Homo sapiens: one gene and its partner. The protein of the gene in region 2 interacts with the protein of the main gene of each other region in a biochemical or structural test. Each region holds a gene or a part of one and is shown on either strand. Other genes may lie near its edges.

What was found.
Region 1: the proteins of SLC25A4 (region 2) and PPIF form a complex in vitro, tested with the Homo sapiens proteins (one study listed by BioGRID).

Annotation. Positions count from the first base shown.
Region 1 is NC_000010.11:79,353,144-79,356,156, reverse strand, and holds the end of PPIF (peptidyl-prolyl cis-trans isomerase F, mitochondrial precursor), read right to left. Parts: intron 2,513-3,013; coding exon of another isoform or gene 2,451-2,512; coding exon 2,315-2,450; 3' UTR 823-2,314; downstream 1-822. UniProt on the Homo sapiens protein: PPIase that catalyzes the cis-trans isomerization of proline imidic peptide bonds in oligopeptides and may therefore assist protein folding. Involved in regulation of the mitochondrial permeability transition pore (mPTP).
Region 2 is NC_000004.12:185,148,465-185,151,103, forward strand, and holds the end of SLC25A4 (ADP/ATP translocase 1), read left to right. Parts: 3' UTR 1-1,918; downstream 1,919-2,639. UniProt on the Homo sapiens protein: ADP:ATP antiporter that mediates import of ADP into the mitochondrial matrix for ATP synthesis, and export of ATP out to fuel the cell.

The DNA of each region.
Region 1 (3,013 bases), on a different chromosome or scaffold from region 2:
GTTTTGCCAATTGATTCACAGGGTCACATGGGACAATCATAATCCCTCTTGGGGTCTCAGTTTACCCATCTGTAAAGTGTTGGACTGGATGAGAAATTACTAATTATGATTTGGCTCAAGATCCTATTCTTCAAATGAAATCCCTTACAGAACCCCAATATAAATGGAGGGCATCTATGACTGCAAATGGGGTTCAGGGGCCCATGCTCCTTGTGTCCTCCTTGTCTGCTTTGAGGACTCTTAACGCTCTTGATAATTGTTTTAAGACTACTTGTCCTACTGAAACTGACTTCATGGGAACTCTCCATGACTCCAAATGACCCGACCCCAGTCACCATGACCTCAGAGTGACTCCATTAACCTAAGACTACACATAACCTCACTCAGGGAACCCCAGTGAGAAATAATTCTGTTAGATGCCCTCAAAAGGGCCCAAATTTCCTCTGAGAACTGCCTGCCTGACCACTCAACTGCCGGGCCACACCACAGCCCTGTCTACCTAGGGAAGCTCTTACCTCCAATCCTGCCTTCCCTGTGAATTTGGAAACACCTAGAAGTCAATTCCAAATGGAACTGGCTTATCCTAGGAAGTCCACTCCTAACCTCAGATGATGGAGGCTCCTTTGCTCTGGCATCCCTCCTCCTTCCTAAGACCCTGACAGGGGAAAGGTCATCATCCTTGTCACTCCAGAGTGCTTAGGAAGGTGCGCCAGACACTGCGTTATGCACTTCACGTGGATCACCACCCTACGAGGTGGGCCTTATTGTTAACCCGTGTTAGGATTCTTGTATTGCTATAAAAAAATACTTGAGACTGAGTAATTTATTATTAAAAAGGTTTAATTGGCTTATGGTTCTGCAGGATGTACAGGAAGCATGGTGCTGGCATCTGCTCAGCTTCCAGGGAGGCCTCAGGAAGCTTATGACCATGGCAAAAGGTGAAGGGGGATCAGGCATGTCACATGGTGAAAGCAGGAGCAAGAAGGGGGCAGGGGGAGGTGCCACACAATTTTAAATGACCGTATCTTGCAATAATTCACCATCAAGAAAACAGCACCAAGCCATGAAATACCCGTCCCCATGATCCAAACACCTCGTAGCAGGCCCCACCTCCAGCACTGGGGATTACAGTTCAACATGAGATTTGGCTGGGGACAAATATTCAAACTATATCGCCTCCTTATGCAGCTGAGGGAAACAGACTTGGGGTCACTAAGGGGAGGAGCTGGGATTCAGGGTGGAGCCAGTGCTCATGGCATAGGCTATGGGTGCTAAGGTCGTTTGTCTGAGCCTCATCTCTAAGGCAGGGAGGACAAGTTGCCAGCACGATGACATGAAACCATCCACATGAACGTCCTGAGCATGGCATCTGCCACGGCGAGCTCAGTAAAGATCAGCTCCAAGTCACAGACCCCTCTTCCAGAAACCAGGTACCAGTCTTCCATAGAAAATAGGATTTATTTTCACATTTAAGGTGAACACAAATCCATGTTCCAGAAATGTTTTATGCATAACACATCATGAGTAGATTGAATTTCTTTAACACACAGAAAAATCAAAGCCTACCAGGAAATGCTTCCCTCCGGAGCACAGGAGCTTACAGGCCACTTCTGTTAGCAACACAGGAATTCACATTGTCTAGGCACAGCTCAAGTGAGGTTTGTTCCCAGGTTCAACTGCTCCTACCCCCATGGGCCCTCCTCAAAAACGACAGCAGCAAACCAACAGGCTTCACAGTAACCAGGAGGAAAGATCTCAGCGGGGGAACCTTCACAAAAGCCCTGAGTTGTGTTTCAAAAGCCAAGCTCTGGGGTCTGTGGCCTGTGTCACCAACTCAGGTCACACCACAGCACGGGGAAGTTAGTGTTGCAGTTTCACTTCTAGTCAATCTTGTTAATTAAATTATCCCAATTAGGAAGACAATATTAAACAGGTATTAGAGTCCTTTTGCAAAACTGACTGTCCCCCTTGGTCAAGGAAAAGACTTTCACTTGGATGGCAACCCATCACCATCACCATGTCCAAGGCACAGATGAATCTGGGCTGGGCAATCACAGGCAATGCTTGACAAGGGGTGGGTGACATCATGTCCACAAAGATGCCCAGAAATGAGGTCGTGAGGAAGGGTGGGTATTAGGAAGCAATGTGGTGGGTCCTGGCCGAGGTCTAACATCCCTAGCAGCCTTCCTCAGGCACACTGTGACAGTGGAGTGGGCACACGTATCGTTTCAGGCACCTTGGCTGACAGCCCAACGCGGCCACCTGGGTGCATGGACATTTGCAGCTGCCACCATGCCAGCACCCTGGCCACAGATTAGCTCAACTGGCCACAGTCTGTGATGACAATCTTCTTGGATGTCCTCCCACTCTTAGAGCCGAAAGATTCTATTTTCTTCACGACGTCCATGCCCTCTTTGACGTGACCGAACACAACATGCTTGCCATCCAACCTGTGAGGACGGGTGACCCGGGTGAGCAACAGTGTAGCGCAATGTCATCCAATGCCATGGACCTGGTCATGGAATTAGTTACCGAAAACAGCAATTCTGAAAAGAATCCCCATGGAATAGCTAGATCTACCCCCAAAGCTCGATCAAGCCTTGTTGAGCGCCCCAAATACACCCCAGAGGATGCCTGGCTTCCAGGACACATTCTGTCACTCATGTTGTGACCTTGCCTCAGGCCATGTAGCCTGAATCCTGGTAACCCCATCTATCAAAAGTGGAGTATTCTTTGTTCTGCATGGGGAGGTAACAGGATACTGAAATGCTCTGAAGAAAGAAGAAGTCCATACAAATGGAACCACGTTAACGGTCATGAATGATGAGTCAAGAGTCAAAGGAACAAGGGTGGTGAAACTGCAGGAGTCCTGGGCAGCTCTCAACCCGAGAGAGTCCAATAATGTAAAAGGCGGCTCAGTCCAGCTCCAGCGAAGCTGGCGTGGTTCCAGCCAAGAGCAGAACTGCAGGATCCACTGGGGTCCCATGAAGGAGCAAAGAGCAGGCTGAGCCAG
Region 2 (2,639 bases):
ATTCCATTGTTAGACAATTTGTTTAAGACAATACATCTTGCTTGAGAAGGAATAGAAGGGAAATGAAATGGGGGGAGGGAGTGGTAGGAGATGGAGGCTTTGAAAGAAAATAACCAGATTTAGAAACATGGGTATAGAAAGCATCCTCCAGTACTTCTGTAACAATTTATCAAGACCTACAGGAAGTCAGTTTTGGATTTGCTCCTCCGAGATTTGCGAGCCAGAGGAAAATACTTAGACTATCAGGTTGGAAAGTTCACACTTGGACCAGGAAAAGACCAAGCAGTTGCTATAGTCTCCTGGATTGTGACTAATCTGGAGGAAGCAAGTCCCTGTATCCTTGGCAAAGCTTGAAAGGCAGGCAAATGTCTTCTCTGTGTTTTCTGACAGGTGGTTGGGTGGTGGGGGTTGGTCTCTGTACCTCCTGTTCTTTACCTTGCTTACCAAGCCCTTCCACCGACTCACTCCTGCCTCCCCAGCTAAAAATTGGCTGTGTTGCTTTTACCACAGTTACCAAGGTCTGAGTTTTATAAAATCCAGGATCACATCTGACCTCACCTGGTAGATATCTAGGCCAATAAAGTCTAAAGGGCTAAAAAGAAGGTACCTCTCCATCCTGTCTCCTCGAGGCCAGGCAGCACATGTGCAGTTAAGAGGCCTCCTGGATCCATTGTCCTCCTGTTGCTTTTCGTTCTAAGTGATCCAAACTCTATTGCTGATAGGGAATAAAAGCAGGGCAGGCTAGTAGTGGGCAAGTGCTTTGATGGAGCGTATCTCCAAGCAGGGCCCAAGTTTAGGAGGAGGAAGACCTGATACAATGAATGAACAGTGCGTCCTCCCAACCCAACCAAGAAGTGTAATTGTGTTCCGTCTTTAACCCTGGCATGGAATGGGGAGGGAAGAGGCATGGACATTTATTACATAGTGCACATTATCTACATTCTCTGCATGTGACCCAGATGTCAGCCCTTCCGCTTCCTGCGAAGGTTACCTCTAATGCACGTTGCCCCAGGCCCTGCTGAGCTAGTTCCTCACCGCAGCTACTTAACTCACCATGAATTCCTAGAACCCTCAGCCTCTGAGAGTGCTGGGATCTGGCGGGAGAACAGGCAGTACTTCCCTCACTAACCTACCCGCACGCCATACCATCATTGTGCAAAGCTGCCTCATGCTGGAAGGTCTGGTTTACGTAAAAGTGACAAGTTGGAATTGAGCGTCCGACTCTCGGGTACCTGCCCCAGGCATTTCTCATCAGCCCCATTTCCCACACAGCTCTCTCCTAGGCGCAGCCCTCCTTCACCACCACCACCCCCACCCCAATCACCTTTAGGTATTTTCTCCCCTAAAGCCTCACCTGTTGGCATTTTACATCTTTTTAAGACCTTATTTTGTATTTTAAATGTATGAGAAAAATTATGGAGGATGATGCAAGATGAGTGAGTCCATAATGGTAATAATTGGACACTAAAAACAATGAAAACTTGTCTCAAGTATTTGTGTTGAAATCTCAATTAACTGGGCGACTGCTCCCGTTCCATTTTATTCTGTAAAATATGTGGCATCCTTTGTGTTGAGGCGGCATTTACTAAACACCCCCAAGGTGCAAGGCTGCAAGAGAATCGAGCGCCGCAAGGCGAGCTTATCTTCCACACCTGGTACAGTGCCCAGGACAGAGAAGGTGTTTAGCAAGTTTCTGCTGAATGGAAGAGTGAGCGAGAAGGGAAAGTGCATCTAAAAAGCACAGGGAACCTACAAAATATTTGGGAAAGGGTTTCATCAGTTCGGGTGAAATCTTGAACGTGCAAAGCACCATGGGGGTGGCTGGACAGGCTTGTTGGAGTCGTATAATGCAATGAATAAAAACTTACGGCTGCCTTAAATGCAAATGTCAAGCCCTTAAATAAAATTTAACAAAGTCTACCGTGTCACAAATTCTTTGCTTTTCTGCTCCTCCTCAATATCAGAGATTTTATCAATCCACAATAAAGTACAGTTGATCTCATTCACAGATTACATATCTGTAAACTGGCTTCACTGCCAAACTTCATTTGTAACCACTTTAAGGTCCTTGGACACACAGAATGATGACAAACTCAAGTTGCCTGACACACATCCCTAGCTGCAGTGGAACAAGGTGACACTTACCCCGCCTTTTCATTTCAGCCTCATCCTGTAAACAAGCATCCTGTTCACATGTTTACTTCGTGCTACAGAAATTCTGCTGTTTAAAAAGGCCCTCAAGCTTTGTGCAGTGGCCAAAATGCAGTTTATCCAAGGCACAATCATTGCCAATTAACATGGCCCCCAAGCAGAATGCTGTTCCTCAGCACAGGAGGGCTAAGACATGCCTTGTGGAAAACACATGTGTCAGATCAGCTGTCTTCAGGCCTGGGCCATGAGCTCAGTGTTAATGATCAGCAATATATATTAAATAAGGTGTCTTTAAGTATAAACACATAAAACAAGGTTATGTATGATTTTTGTGACCAGCAGCTCATGGGAACCTAACCTTGTATTTCCCCTTGGCAAAATGTTTCAGTGTTTGCCTCAACTTTGTAGTATATAACCTCCATGAATAATGGGAATCAGCTGTCTTACCATTTTTGAAGTCATAAACATTATAGAAAGACCAGCCTGGG